Linked DNA regions of Homo sapiens: region 2 is linked to region 1. Evidence: fine-mapped expression QTL. Tissue or cell type: whole blood. Region 1 holds a variant in brackets; the other region holds the start of a gene. All regions are shown on one strand. Distances are from middle to middle.

Region 1 (8,000 bases):
GGCCCCGGGAACCCAAGCCCCAGACCCCAGGGTCCCAGTCCTGGTGACTTACCAATGAGCACCTCCCACTTGCCCTCGGTGGCCCTGGTCACCTCGTAGGCGGCCCTCATCTCTGACATGGCCACACCGCCCATGACATACACGATGAGCCGGGGGCCCGCCCGGGCTTCTATGCCAGCCTTGTTCTTGTGCCAGTGACCGAAGCGGGCACTGTGCAGGGCAGGGGCAGAAAGTCCAGGCAGGAGGCCCTCACCGCCGCCAGGCCGCCCACCTAACACAGACCCAGGCGTGGGCGGGGGCGGCCCCGGGGCCTCACCTGACAGCGGCCTGGGAGCTGGCCGTGGGGGCGGGGTCGGATACGAAGGGCCACAGGTTCCTGTCCAGCCGGTCCTCCACGGCGTCCTGGCGGCCGAGAGGCAGGTTAGGGGAGGAACCCCAGGCATGGGGTCCGGGGTCAGGAGTGCCCCCCACGGGGTATTCAGGGGCCAAGATCCTGGCAGACAGGAACCAGCATCTCCACCTCCTGCCTCTGGGGGACCCAGGAGTCTAGGCCTCTAGTCCATTGGGGACCTAGAAATCTAGATCCATAACTCACTGGGGACCCACGAATCTAATTCCATAACTCCTTGGGTACCCAGAAGTCTAAACCCACAGTTCCTCGGCAACCCAGTAGTCTGGGCCTCCAGGCCCTTGGGGACCATCAGTCAATACCCCCAGCCCTTTGGGGAACCCAGTGTCTGGGCTCTCAGCCCCTCAGAGCCCCAGAAGTCCAGGTATTCAAGGTCCATGGGGATGAGGAGGCCCAGGTCTCTGGCCCCCACGCAGAAAGAGGGGCCGGGGCTCTTAGAGGGACAAGGAGGAAGCCAGGAAGCCGCCCCAGGCCCATTGCCATTGGATGGTGCTGCCCTGGGATCCTGGGAAGGCCAGGGCTGGGGCTCAGGGGCACTCCTGCGGGACAGGGGAACAGACTAGAGAGATATAGCGGAGGCAGCCGGCAGGTGGGGAGGAAGTGAGGCTCCCCAGCACAGGCCCCGCTGTCACCCCAATTCCTCAGCTGCGGGCTTGGCGTGCCCCCCTCAGCAGAGCAGATCGGTGCCAAGGGAATGCCAGCAATGAGCATTTTCCCCTAAGCCCTGAGGCTTAGCACCTCAGCAGGAGGGAGGCTGAGCCGCCAGCCGATGCGGAGGGCTGGCCCCCACCCTGACCTGCCACCCAGTACCTCCATTACATCCTTGATGACCGGGGTCCAGCGGGACAGCTGATAGGTGGGCTCCATGCGTTCTCTCGGCTCCAGCCGGCTGGAGGTCCCCGAGCCCTACAGGCAGGGCAGGGAGGGCAGCAGGGGGATTGAGGGGAAGGAGGCTGGTCACAGAGGGGCTGCGCCTGGTGTGGCTGGTAGGGTGGGGGATGGCAGGCAAAGATGGGGAAGTGGAACAGAGAGCGAGAGAGAGCGAGAGACAGCAAGAAAGCGAGAGAGAGAAACAGTGAGCCAGAGAGAGACGGAGAGAGAAAGCCAAAGGGAGAGAGAGCGAGCCAGAGAAAGACAAAGACAGAGGCAGAGATAGGCAAAGAGATAAGAAGCAGTGAGACAAAGTATGAAGGCAAAGAGAGAGACAAGAGATGAAGCAGGAAACAGAGAGAGGAAGATGGGGACAGAAGGGGGACGGAGAGGGGAGGGGAGCAAGACAGAGAACAGAGAGAAAGGGGAAGGCAGAGAGAAGGGTGAGAGAGAGAGATATGGAGAAACAGTGCACAGCGAGATGGATGAGGGATGGGGGAGAGATGGGGACGGGGTGAGGGCACCCTGGAGGGGGACGCACAGGGCCAGAGAGAGACAGGAGAGGCTGACCCAAGAGTCAAGCACACACATGGCTGTGTGTGGGTGCTGGATGGGTGCGGGGGACCCTCAGAGACCCCTGGGAGCCCAGATAGACAATGTGGTGTAGCCCCCATGCTGGGGACCCTACTCCCTGCCTCTAGCACTCAGACCACCCGCTCCCAACTGCACCACTGCCAGGACCAGCCTGGCAGCGACCATGTCTCACTTCCCCTGCCTATTGTGTAAGCTGGGACTGGGAGAGGCCCCAGTGTCCTCTGGGCCCCAGACCAGACCCGAAACACTGCTTTTGGCCTCCCAGCAACCACACCACGCCAGGAACCACACCGTGCCTGTGCACCAATGGCCCTCTGCCTTGCAGAGCCCCGGCTGTGATCCGCACCCTCTCCCAGGGTCCCCCCATGCCCGCTCCTGGCGTACCCCGGGGTTGGTGACAGTGCCTCCCAGCTGCTCCAGGTTACGGATGAGGCTGCTGTGCGCCTGTACATTGGCATGCTGGATCAGCTTGGCCAGGTTCTCCTCACTCACACCTGGGGGACGGGAATGGGCAGGGTGGAGGCGGCGGCCAGGTGAGCTCCCAGGTTTAGGGGAGTTTGGGGTGGGCTGAGGAGCTCCCAGGACTCTGATGAGAGAACCTTGCAGTGGGGAGGGCCTCAGTACCCTGTGCTAGTGTGAGCAAGAGTGGGAAACCTGGAGGGGGTAGATCAGGGGCTCCTCCAGATGAGCTGAGGGAGCCCCACATCTATAGGAATCACAGATGTGAGGGTTTCTACGTTAGCAGGGAGCCCTCACCTCAGTGGAGGAATCCCCAAGCCAATGGAGGAGGGTTCCCGGGTCCAGAGGGGTAGCTGTGGGGGTTGGTGAGCCCGGTGAGTGCAAATGACCCAAGGAGAGCTGTGGGGTTCAGCAGTTCCCAGGATCGTGGGAGACGCTGGCAAATGGGGACGTTCCAACTCCCTGCAGCCCCCACCCACCATTCCGAAGGAGGATGTAGAGCAGCAGGACCCGGATCTTGTCGTAGGCGGGCACCGCCGCGTCCAGCAGCACCGGAACGATCAGCTTCATGGAGTCCTTGATCTTCTCCCCCTCTGCGTCGGAGCCCATGGCCAGGTCCTGCGGGCATGGGGTCAGCCGTCCACCGGCCGCTATGTGTCAGGGAAGGGGATGGGAGAGGCGGGCCAAGGACATCCCCAGGATCCTCGGCAAGAGGACATTTGGGTCCTACCTCATCTCAGCACCAGGTCTCTCAAGGTCCCACCCCTGTCCAGGGACAGTCTCTCCACAGGCCCTGCTCCTCACCCAGGTCCCACCTTTCCAGTGCCCCACCCACCTACACACAGGTCACACCACTATCCTGAGACTACCTCTCCAAGGCTCCACCCCTCACCCAGGTCCCAGCTCTCCAAGGCTCCACCCCTCACCCAGGTCCCAGCTCTCCGAGGCTCCACCCCTCACCCAGGTCCCACCTCTCCGAGGTTCCACCCCTCACCCAGGTCCCACCTCTCCGAGGTTCCACACCTCACCCAGGTCCCACCTCTCCGAGGCTCCACCCCTCACCCAGGTCCCACCTCTCCAAGGCTCCACCCCTCACCCAAGTCCCACCTCTCCAAGGCTCCACCCCTCACCCAGGTCCCAGCTCTCCAAGGCTCCACCCCTCACCCAGGTCCCACCTCTCCAAGGCTCCACCCCTCACCCAGGTCCCACCTCTCCGAGGTTCCACCCCTCACCCAGGTCCCACCTCTCCAAGGCCCCGTGCCTCACCCAGATCCCACCTCTCCATGGCTCTACCTGTCTCCCAGCTCCTACCTCTCCAAGGCCCCACCCCTCACTCAGGTCCCACCTCTCCAAGGCTCCGCCCCTCTCCCAGGTCCCACCTCTCTTAAGGCTCCACCCCTCTCCCAGGTCCCACCCCTCCAAGGTTCCACCCCTCATCCAGGTCCCACCTCTCCAAGGTTCCACCCCTCACCCAGGTCCCACCTCTCCAAGGCTCCGCCCCTCACCCAGGTCCCACCTCTCCAAGGCTCCGCCCCTCTCCCAGGGCCCACCTCTCCAAGGCTCCATTCCTCTCCCAGGTCCCACCTCTCCAAGGCTCTGCCCCTCACCCAGGTCCCACCTCTCCAAGGCTCCATTCCTCTCCCAGGTCGCACCTCTCCAAGGCCCTGCCTACCTCTCCAAGGTCCCACCCACCTATGAATAGGCCACATTCCTGTCCTGGGACCACCTGTCCAAGGCTCTGCCCCTCACCCAAGTCTGACCTCTCCAAGCCCCATCCACCTATGCACAGGCCACACCCTCATCCTAGGACCGTTTCTCCACAAGACCCACTCCTTCCCCACCAGGTCCCACCTCTCTCCAAGGCCCCTCCACCTCTCCACAAGCCCTGCCCCTCCCCCAGAACCCCCCATCTCTACAGTTCAGCCCCTCCCCAATACCCCGCCTTGGCAGGACCATCACCCCTGCCCCCCGCAAGCCCTGCCCCACCTGCTCCACACTACACAGCTTCTCCACCGAGCCCTTGAAGTGCTTCATACAATCATCTGCTAGATGCAGGTGC[G/A]TAGAATACTGCAGGGTGCAGGGTGGGGGTTGGGGGATAACAAAGGCTGAGTCAAGGCAGAACGCAGACAGAGCATGGGGTTGAGGGGCCGAGGTGTCCCCGCTCCCTGCCCACCCGAGCACACCTTATTCAGCTCCTTCTGGTACTGCGGCATCTTTTTCAGGATCTGGGATAGGTCTTTGATGTTCGCCTGGGGAAGTAGGGGGAAGAGGGTAGGGATTGGGGGGCGAAGCCAGGCAGTGCCCACCTGGGTCTCAGTCCAGGCTCGAAATCCAGGCTGTGGCCCTGCGCCCATGGGGAGGGGGGCTTCCTTCCACCAGCGCCTTTGGTGACCTGGGTCCGCCCCTACCTTGTCCGTGGTCAGCCTCTTGCTCTCACAGAAGGTCCTCAGGAGCTCCGTGACCTTCCTGGCCATGAGGGTGGGCGGGGGTGAGAGTGAGGGGAGAGGAGCCACAGGCCATGGGTGAGCCCACTCAGGGGGGACAGGGAGAGGTGGGGTGAAATTGGAGGCCAGTCTGGAGTCACACGAGGGGTGCTCATGAGGGCCAAAGACTTGGCAGCAGCCAGGGATCCCAAGGCCGCTACCAGGCCCACAGTGGGCGGTGGGGGGGGGATCCGGTCCCCGTGTGCACGCACTTGGACACATCTGCGATATGCATGTGGCGAAGCTCCACCCACAAGTCATCGTCCTCGTCCAGCAAGACGGCCTTCTCCCGCGCCTCGCTCAGCCCGGTGGTCTCATACCTGGGGAGGAAGGAGGGAGCCTGGGGGTCAGGGGAGCTGAGGACTGGGGAACCAGGTCAGTGGCAAGGGTGGGGACGGGTTCCAAGTCTGCAGACCTGTATGTGTCCTGCTCTATGTCCAGCAGATCATACGCCATGGCCTGGAACGTGAGCTCATGCAGTAGTGGGGACACGGGGTCAGCTGCCCGGTCCATTATCAGCAGCTGGGAGCGGGTTTTCTCTGGGCCCTGGGGTGGGGTTTAGGGCAGGAATGAGGCACTGACCCTGAGCCGGTTGGGGCTGCCCCTCACCTCCCAAGCACGCCCCCTCACCTCGCCCAGACTGGGAGTGTCTGCCTTGAAGGCGTTCAGCTTGGCCAGGACGGCGTGGGCCAACTGGGCTGTGTCCTCTGGGCCCCTGGCGGGGAGGTCAGACACGGGGGACATCATCAGGGGATGGGGTCAAGGATGGGTTTGAAGGTGAGAGTCAGGGGCCAGGGTAGGGCCGGGGCTGGGGTCACAAGAGAGGTTAAAGGTTAGGTGTTGCACGCGGTTAAGGGGGGGTCGGCATCGGGGTGGGGCTGGGTGGGGTCCCCACTTGCGGTAGCGGATGGCCGGGTACTCCTGCAGGGTGGCGCACAGCGTGGCAATCTGCTGGGCCAGCACCTCGAGCTGCCGCGTGCGCTCCTCTGCCCGGAAGGGGCAGTAGAGGTTGTAGGTGCTGTGGGGAGCATCGAGGGAGAACACCTGGGCGAGGAGGGGACAGAAGCACCAGGGTTGCCGCTGCAGGTGCACACCTGCCCCGCTTCCCGCTGCCGCCACCTGCACCTCCTGGGAGCCGTCCCTGGTCCCTGAAGCCTGCTTTGCCGAATTGGAGGCAGGCCCAGGTCAACCCTAAACCCATGCCTGCAGGAGTCAGTGGATAAATACCCCAGCCCGTGTCCCTTAAGCTGGCTGGACAACCCCGCGGTGCGCTCTACGCTGCCCCCTGCAAGGGCCTAGTGGGATAGAACTCAAGGCAAGAGCTCCTTGGACTCTGTGGGTACCTCCCCTTTTTAAAATTTTACTTTATGTATGTTTTTGAGACAGGATCTCGCTCTGTCGCCCAGGCTGGAGGGCAGCAGTGCAATCATAGCTCACTGCAGCCTCGACCTCCCGGGCTCAAGCGACTCTCCCACCCCAGCCCCATGAGTAGCTAGGACTACAGGTGCACGCCACCACGCCAAGCTAATTTCTTTCTTTTTCTTTTTTTAAGAGACGGGGTCTTGCTCTGTACCCAGGCTGGTCTCAAACTCCTGGCCCCAAGTGATCCTCCTGCCCTGGCCTCCCACAGCGCTGGGATTACAGGTATGAGCCACTGCGCCCAGCCTCAGTGTCTGTTTCTGAGGGAACAGGGGACATTTGGTCACAAACCCCCACCCCCTGCCCAGGATGAGCCCGGGCCGTACCTGGGCCTCGTAGGGGAGGAAGGCAAGGTGAATCTCCTTCAACGTCTTCACCACCTTTGCCAGACGAGAGCGGCCTAGCTCACTGAACAGGGGCTCGGGGCAGGCTGGGGTGAGGCAGGAGTGGGGCATCAGGCCAGAGCAGCCCCCACACCTCCTTGCCCCACCCACCAACACCCTAGGCTCTCCTCACTCACTGTCGGTGAAGAAGATATGGGCCGCTTTGTAGGTGAAAGTCGGGGTCCCCTGGAAGTCTTTGATCAGGGCCTGAACCGACTGGGGAAGGTGGATCACTCTCTGGGCCTGAGCCTGCACACCTAGGCTCATTGGCTGCCTAGGCCTCCCAGCCACCCCCCATCTGCCACCATGTGCAAACATGGACGGACGGGGACATGTATATGTGCAAATGCACACTAGTGTCGCACCCACATGGGCACACGCGCACACACACAGATGCACGCACGCACACACACATACACACGCATGCACACATGCACACACACACAGATGCACACACACATACACACATGCACACACAGAGATGCACACACATACATACACACATGCACACACACAGATGCGCGCGCACACATACATACACACATATACACACATGCAGACACTGATGCGCACACACACGCATACACACATGCACAGACGCATACACACACGCATACACACGCACACACAGATGCACACACATACATAGACACATGCACACAGATGCACATACATATACACGCATACACACATGCACACACAGATACACACAGACGCACACACAGACGCAGACACATACATACACACGCATACACACATGCACACAGACAGACGCACACACACACATACAGATGCACACAGATGCACACACACATACATACACACGCATACACACATGCACAGACACAAATGCACACACAGACCCACAGACACACACGCATACACACATACACACAAATGCACACACAGACGCACACACATGCACATGCACACAGACACATACATAGACACACATGCAAACACGCACACACATGCATACACAGATGCACACACACATGCACACACATGCACACACATACACATGGACACATGCACACGTATACACATGCACACATGCAATCACATGCATGCAGACATACACACACATGCACATGTACACGCATGCACGCGCATACACACACGCTCACTCATGTAGGCACCTTCTCCGTGGGGCTCAGCAAATAAATGGCCTCCAGACTGGGAATGGGTTCCCGCCGTTTGTTGATGTCTTCAACAACTAGTAGGAACAGAGGAAGGGACACAGGTGGGTGGCATCCAGGCAGGGCCACGTGGGGAGTCTCAGGTGTGGGGGGTTGGAGGCTTGGGGAGGAGGGGTGGATGCTTAGGAGGGACTGCAGGAGAAACCCACTTAGGGACCACCAGCTAAGAGCCACACGACAGGGT
Region 2 (8,133 bases), 47 kb after region 1:
AAGGATAGATGGGTGGGTGGGTGGATGGACGGACGGATGGGTAGATGGGTGGGTGGGTGGATGGGTGGGAGGGTGGGTGGGTGGATGGGTGGGAGGGTGGGTGGGTGGATGGCTGGGTGGGAGTGTGGGTAGGTGGATGGATGGGTGGGTGGATGGATGGATGGGCGGGTGGATGGATGAGTGGGCGGGTGGATGGATGAGTGGGCGGGTGGATGGATGAGTGGGCGGGTGGATGGATGGGTGGATGGGTGGGTGGGTGGATGAGTGGGTGGGTGGGTAGGTGGATGAGTTGGTGGGTGGGTGGATGGATGGATGGGTGGATGGGTGGGTGGATGGATGGGTGGATAGGTGGATGGGTGGGTGGGAGAGTGTGTGGGTGGGTAGGTGGGTGGGTGGATGGGTGGGTGGGTGGGTGGATGGATGGGCGGGTGGATGGATGGGCGGGTGGATGAGTGGGTGGATGGATGAGTGCGTGGTTGGATGGATGAGTGGGGTGGGTGGATGGATGAGTGTGTGGGTGGATGAGTGCGTGGGTGGATGGATGAGTGGGGTGGGTGGATGGATGAGTGGGGTGGGTGGGTGGGTGGATGGATGAGTGGGGTGGGTGGATGGATGAGTGCGGTGAGTAGGTGGGTGGGTGGATGGATGGATGGATGGATGGATGGATGGATGAATGAATGGGTGGGTGGAAGGATGGATGAGTGGGTGGATGGATGGGTGGATGGATGAGTGCGTGGGTGGATGGATGAGTGGGGTGGGTGGGTGGGTGGGTGGATGGATGAGTGCAGTGGGTAGGTGGGTGGATGGATGGATGGATGAATGAATGGGTGGATGGATGGGTGGATGGATGGATGAGTGGGTGGATGGATGGGTGGATGGATGAGTGCGTGGGTGGATGGATGAGTGGGGTGGGTGGATGGATGAGTGGGGTGGGTGGGTGGATGGATGAGTGCAGTGGGTAGGTGGGTGGGTGGATGGATGGATGAATGAATGGGTGGGTGGATGGATGGATGAGTGGGTAGATGGATGGGTGGATGGATGGATGGAAGGCTGATTGAGACAGGATCTCACTCTGTTGCCCAGGCTGGAGTGCAGTGGCGTGATCATAGCTGACTGTACCCTGGAACTCCTGGGCTCAGGCAATCCTCCTGCCTCAGCCTCCTGAGTAGCTGGGACTACAAGCCCATGCCACCACACCCAACCATTTATTTATACCATGACCTTCCCTGCATCCAGTCATTTAATCCTTACGACACTTATTATTATACCCCTTGTACAGATGAGAAAACCAAGGCCTGGAGAGCTGAGATAACTTGTCCAGGATAAAAATGTCCAACATGAACTTGAGTTTCCCTCACACATCACACATCTGTTCTGAAGGCATAAAGAACTGCATGGGGTGTTTTCCAAATGTGTTTAACATGGAACCCTTTGTTTTTTGAGACAGAGTCTCTCTCTTTCACCCAGGCTGGAGTGCAGTGGTGCAATCTCGGCTCACTGCAACCTCCGCCTCACAGGTTCAACAATTCTCCTGCCTCAGCCTCCCAAGTAGCTGGGACTACAGACGTGTGCCATCATTCCCGGCTAATTTTTGGATTTTTAGTAGAGACGGGGATTCATCGTGTTGGCCAGGCTTGGAACCCTTTCTTATCTAATCTCCAAGCTTGTGTTCTGCTTTTATTTCTGCACAGCCTTCTCACACCTGTGCCTTGGAGTTGCCAGAACTATCCCTTCCTCTGAGCCATCACTACTCCCACGGGGCCACTGCATACCTGATCTTGTCAGTTCCCAACACTGTCCGTGGCTCCCCAGTACCCTTGGATCCATAACCAGGGGCCTGAAGGGCCTTCCTCAGTCTGACCAGCCTCCCTTATCTCCCACCGCCACCCCGGGGACCTGCATCTTATTCTCTGAGAACTCCCTGCTGGTCCACACTCCGAGCCTTTGCCCACTGCCCACACATCTCTTCTCCGTGTCAAACTTCCATGCATCCTTCCAGACTCAAATCTTTCCACCTGTGGGATCTCTTCCCTCCCTGGAAGATTTCAAGAATTTCTTTCCCCAGGCCCCGCTGGCCAGCTTCCCTATGATCTGGTTTCCTGCCCATCCCCCTCTGCCCCATATCCATCCCCTGCCGTCTCCTCTACACCCTGAGCGCCCAGCCCAGCACCTGATAGGTATCATACCGTCAAGAGTCCCCAGAGCTCATGAATCTTGTAGAACTCTGCTCCCATTTCCTTCAGCCCTTCTCCTCTTTTTAGGGGAGTGGAACAGGGAACAGATTGAACTTGACCCTCACGGTAGAGGCAGCCACTGCCGTGTGTCACACAGCAGAGGGAGCTGGGTCAACAAGAACAGAACTGGGTGAGTCAGGGCACTGGGAGCTCACCAACACCCCTCATCAGAAGTTTGCTTTGCTGTCTTCAAAATGGGATAATTTCTACTCTGATTCCTGGCCAGGGGATAATGGATAACGTTAATATTATTCATCAAAATATACCACCGCCAATCACACCAGCAGCGAGCAACCGTTTCGCATGTATCACGCGCCCCGTGCCACGCGAAGAATTCTGTGGTCACTACAGCTTTTACGCCTCCCAGCAACCTTGCAAAGAGGTAACGGGGGGTCTCCATCACTGGAGCAGTGCCCTACACATAGCAAGTGCCCCTGCCCCACAAACATTCGCAAAACAGATAAGTCTGTGAATGAACGCCTTCTTTTATAGAAGGGGAAACAGAAGCTCAGATAATTGGGATAATTCGCATTCTGGTGCAGCTGGACTTCACATTCAATTCTGACACTCCACGTTGAGTTCTCTACAGCCTGGTAACCTTGGAAGTGAGGAGCTGGGGCTGTCCTGGCTGTCCAATGCCCAATCTCTTTCTTCCTCAAGCAAATATCTGCAGGGAGGTAGACCCCAGAGTGGGAAATGCATGCATGGAACGACGCAGACAGAGACTGTCTGGGAGAAAGAGGGACAGGCTGGGGCGGAACCAGGAGACGGACAGCTGTCACTGAGACCCACACCCAGAACAGGTTGATCTGGGAAGGCCAGGGAGAGGGGGGATGGGCTGTGCCAACACCAGTGGGCAGAACCAGTGGGAGAAAAGGATGTACCCCCACAGCTCCCCGCTGGAAAGCCCAGACCTTAATTAACCCCTGTCTTCTCTGGCCAGGCCCTGACTCCTAGCTCTGGCCTGGGGTTGTGAAGCTGCCCAAAGCCGAGACTGAGTGTTTCCAGGGCCTCTAATCCCGGGGACCCGGGATTACGGCATCCTCCCCATTAGGGTGGCTCGGGCTCTCAGGCAAGCGGGCCTGGGGGAGGGAGTGAAGGATCTGCTCTAATGGGAGAAGGCCCCGCAGCCGGGAGGAGCGGGGGGCCCACCCCAGGCGATCTTGTACTACCCATTTCCCTTCAGCTGGGCTCGCCAACCTCCCCAGTAAAATGGGGCCATAAGTCGCAGCTGCCAGGCGCTGGAGGGGGCTATGGAGGCGAAAGGGGGTTCCCAGAGCTCCCCGGTCGCCGCCCGCAGCGCGGCCAGGGCCGACGCGGGGTGTGTGTTGGGGCCTGGGGGTCGTGCGGTGGTGGAGACCGGAGCGCTCGAGACCCCCCAGCGAGGTCGGGGTCTGGGTCTCCAGGGTGTGTGGCGGGGGAAGAGACCGAGAGGAGATCCTCGCAGGGGCGTGATGTGTGTAAAAGAGAAGAAGGCGTGCAAGGGAAGGCCTTGGGGGTGCGGGAGGCGGGAACGAGAGGTCCGCACGGGGAGACCCCACCCGGCCCGCAGACCCCGCCCGGCTCACCTGGAGGCTTGGACGCCGGGGACCCCCGCGCGGAGCTGGGCCGCGGGCCCCACCCCCACCGCGCTCCCGCAGCCGGCGGGGCAAAGTCCACCGCCCGGGCCGAGCAGGAAGCTCGGAGGCCCCGGCGCGGCAGGGGCCCGAGCCCGGGGACCCCCGGCGGCCGGCGCTATTGTTCCCACGGCCCCCTGCCTTCCCGGCCCGGCGCCCCGCCCCCCCCCAGCACCTGCCGCGCCCGGCCCGCCGCCCCCGACCCCGGTCCCCCGAGCCCCGGTACCTGCGCCCCCGAACGCGGCCCGCAGCACCCACGCCAGGCTGGCCGCCGCCTTGGCCCGCGAGAAATCGTACTGGTCCAGCGACTTGATCTCGGGCACTAGAAAGGTCCTCCGCAGCGGCCCGGGCCCGGGGGGCGCCGCCTCCACCATGGCGGCGCCGGGGCTGCGGGCGCCGGGTCCGCGCTCGGACTGGGCTGGGCTGGGCTGCGCCGCGCTCGCGCCCCAGCCGGGCCCGCTGCTGCTACCGCCGCTGCCGCCGCCGCCGCCGCCGCCGCTGCTGAGCCAGGTGCGGCCGCTTGCGCTGGCGACGCTGCGTCGGGCCCGCCCCGGGGAGGAGCCCAGGTGCGCCCCGCCCCCGAACCCGGACCCGGACCCTGGCGCGCCCCTGCGCCCCGCCCGGGCCCCTCACTGCAGTGTGCACGGAGCAGCAGGGGCGGGGCGGAGGGGGGCGGCCTGGACTGCGGCGATGGTGGAGGGAGCTTGCGGAGGACTGAGTGTGTATGTGTGCGCGCGCGCGTGTGTGAGTGTGTGCGCGCGCGCCTAGCTTACTGGAAAGGATTAGGGACCCTCTGTGTGTGCCAGCCCCAGTGTCTACCCTTAGGCGTAGGAGCTCCTGCAAGTGCTTGCAATAAACGCCGGCCCTCAGGCAGAGAGTGGTTGGGTGCACCTGTTTCTGATTATGTTAGTGAAGGCACAAGAATATGAGTGTCTTCGTATCTGTGTATCTCTGAATACATTTGGGTGGTGACCAAGTGTATTGGGGGGTGTCTAGGGGTGTGTGTGTGTGGGGTATGTATCTGGGCACGTGTAAGTGTGTGTTTAATTTGTTGTGTGTACAAGGATATGTATTATATAGATGTCTGTATCCTGAGGATGGATGGAAGTGATGAGTGTGTGTCTGTTTTTTGTTTTTGTTTTTGTTTTTGTTTTTGAGACAGGGTCTCACTCACTCTGTCTCCCAGGCTGGAGTGCAGTGGCGCGATCTCGACTCACTGCAACCTCCGCCTCCCAGGCTCAAGCGATTCTCCTGCCTCAGCCTCCCGAGTAGCTGGGATTACGGGGTTGCGCCACCACTCCCGGCTAATTTTTGTATTTTTAGTAGAGTTGGGGTTTCACCATGTTAGCCAGGCTAGTCTCAAACTCCTGACCTCAGGTGATCACCCGCCTCAGCCTCCCAAAGTGCTGGGATTACAGGCGGCAGCCACCGTGCCCGGCTGTGTGTGTGTTTTTGGAGTGCTGTGAGTATGTCTATCTCTGTGCATCTGAACGTACTGGTGTGTTGTATGAGGCTGTTATTGATGCCTCTGTCAATGCAGGAGTATGGAGAGACATTGAGAGTGTGTGTATTTCAGGCCGAGAGCGGTGGCCACGAGTGTAATCCCAGCACTTTGGGAGGCCAAGGCGGGCAGATCACTTGAGGCCAGGAGTTCAAGAGTAGCCTGGCCAACATAGCAAAACCCCGTCTCTACTAAAAATAAAATTTTTAAAAATTAGCCGGGCATAATGGTGCATGCCTGTAATCCCAAGTACTCGGGAGGCTGAGGCGGGAGAATCGCTTGAACCAGGGAGGCAGAAGCTGAGATAGTGCCACTGCACTCCAGCTTGGCCAACAGAGTGAGACCCTGTCTCAAAAAAAAAAAAAAAGTGTGTATATTTCTGCAAGAGTGTGACTATTTGTGTCTATGAGTGTCCTTGCGTAGCTGTACTGGGTGTATTTGCAAGTGTCTTTGTGTATTATTCTGGTATCTGCAGTGTGTGCTGGGAGAAGGCTCTGTGTGGAGGTGAGGCTGTGTGTCTAAGTGGGTTTGTATTTGAGTATGTGAATCTGGCTATATGCACATGGATGTGTGATTGATTGATTGATTGATTTTTTGAGACGGAGTCTCGCTCTATCGCTCAGGCTGGAGTGCAGTGGTGCGATCTTGGCTCACTGCAAGCTCTGCCTCCTGGGTTCATGCCATTCTCCTGCCTCAGCCTCCCGAGTAGCTGGGACTACAGGCACCCGCCACCACGCCCGGCTGGTTTTTTGTATTTTTTTTTAAGTAGAGACCGGGTTTCACCATGTTAGCCAGGATGGTCTCGATCTCCTGACCTCGTGATCCGCCCAACTCGGCCTCCTGAAGTGCTGGGATTACAGGCTTGAGGCACCGCGCCCAGCAGATGTGTGATTTATGATGAGCAGTTCCTGACTATATTTTTGTGCATATATGTGTGTTTATATGTGAGTATCTTTGTGGATTTGAATATATGGTGGGTGCCTGTGACAGATTGTGTAGGCATGAAAGCAGGTATACCTGTGCAAGAATGCCTGTTTCTGCTGGGTGCAGTGGCTCATGCCTGTAATCCCAGTGCTTTGGGAGGCTGAGGCGGGTGGATCACCTGAGGTCAGGAGTTCAAAACCAGCCTGGCCAACATGGTGAAACCCCATCTCTACTAAAAATACAAAAGTTAGCCGGGCGTGGTTGCCCACACCTATAATTGCAGCTACTTGGGAGGCTGAGGCAGGAGAATCGCTTGAACCCAGGAGGCAGAGGTTGCAGCAAGCTAGGATTGCACCACTGTACTCCAGCATGGGCGACAGAGTGAGACTCCGTCACATTAAAAAAAAAAAAAAGAATGCCTGTGTCTGAATGCTTTTGTGAGAGTTCAAATGTGCATATTTATCTAGGAATTCATATCTGTGTAAGCAAATGTATTTCTGTGTATGAATCTGATTGTGTCTGTAAGTATGGAAGTGTGTGTGAACGCGTTGAGTACAAATATTTGTGTACATGAGTGCAATTGTGTGTTTATTTGTAAGGTCTAAGCACCGATTTGTGGATTTTTGGTTTTTTTTTTTCTGTTTGTTTTTTTTTTTTTTTTTGAGACCGAGTCTCGCTCTGTCACCCAGGCTGGAGTGCAGTGGTGCAATCTTAGCTCACTGCAAGCTCCGCCTCCCGGGTTCGCGCCATTCTCCTGCCTTAGCCTCCCCAGTAGCTGGAACTACAGGCGCCGGCCACCATGCCCAGCTAATATTTTGTATTTTTAGTAGAGACGGGGTTTCATTGTGTTAGTCAGGATGGTCTTGATCTCCTGACCTCAGGTGATCCACCCGCCTCGGCCTCCCAAAGTGCTGGGATTACAGGCATGAGCCACCGCGCCCAGCCGGATGTTTTTAATATTTTAATATTTGCTTTTGTTCTATTGTTTGTTTTGTTGTTGTTGTTTTATTTTTTTTTTGGACAGGATCTCACTCTGTCACCCCAGGCTTGAGTGCAGTGGCACAATCATGGCTCACTGCAGCCACCATCCCTGGCTAATTTTTTGTTTTGTGTAGAGATGGGATCTCCTTATATTGCCCAGGCTGATCTCAAACTCCTAGGCTCAAGGGATCCTCCCACCTCGGCCTCCCAAAGTGCTGGGATTACAGGCATGTGCCACTGTGCTTGGCCCTCCATTGTATTTTTGTCAAAATATCCCCTGCATGCCTCTTAGCTGTATATAATTGTGAATGCACAAGTGTTTGTGTGAGTTCGTTCTTTACAGGCCTGGAAAGAAAAGTGTGTTACTTTCGGCCAGGCACGGTGGCTGAAGCCTGTAATCCCAGCACTTTGGGAGGCCGAGGCAGGTGGATCACTTGAAGTCAGGAGTTCAAGACCAGCCTGACCAACATGGTGAAACCCTGTCTCTACTAAAAATACAAAAATTAGCCAGGCATGGTGGCACATGCCTGTAATCCCAGCTACTTGGGAGGCTGAGGCAGGAGAAGCGCTTGAACCCAGGAGGCAGAGGTTGAAGTGAGCTGAGATCTTGCCACTGCACTCCAGCCTGGGTGACAGAGCCAGACTCTGTCTCAAAAAAAAAAAAAAAAGAAAAGAAAAACGTGTGTTACTTTCAGAACACACACACACACACACACATACATAGGCACCTTGTCACCTTGTGAACAGGAATAAGTGCTCACAGACTCACACAAATATTCACAAATTCACACAAATGTAAATGTCAGCTTCATGCACACAAATGCACTCAGAAAGTGATACGTAAAAAGATAACATACAGGCCGGGCACAGTGGCTCA

Evidence for each region. PIP is the estimated chance that this variant, and not a neighbour inherited with it, causes the effect.
Region 2: it holds the start of CAMSAP3, and the variant in region 1 is fine-mapped to the expression of CAMSAP3 in whole blood (GTEx, PIP 0.99).

What each region holds. Positions count from the first base shown.
Region 1 is chr19:7,639,564-7,647,563 of GRCh38, reverse strand. It overlaps STXBP2 (syntaxin binding protein 2), which reads right to left. Exons shown (of 19, transcript NM_006949.4): 4 at 7,757-7,833; 5 at 6,755-6,833; 6 at 6,561-6,664; 7 at 5,711-5,859; 8 at 5,446-5,530; 9 at 5,231-5,361; 10 at 5,028-5,135; 11 at 4,741-4,798; 12 at 4,516-4,581; 13 at 4,319-4,399; 14 at 2,812-2,950; 15 at 2,258-2,367; 16 at 1,220-1,315; 17 at 317-402; 1 more. Among named protein-coding and RNA genes, the nearest start is that of STXBP2, 6.5 kb to the right of the region's middle. RefSeq lists a silencer at 3,451-3,500. The variant G/A (reference allele first, on the strand shown) is at 4,392.
Region 2 is chr19:7,592,094-7,600,226 of GRCh38, reverse strand. It overlaps CAMSAP3 (calmodulin regulated spectrin associated protein family member 3), which reads right to left and starts at 4,364. Exons shown (of 17, transcript NM_020902.2): 1 at 4,077-4,364. The coding sequence starts at 4,224. RefSeq lists an enhancer at 2,780-3,385 and silencers at 4,225-4,664, 6,728-6,928.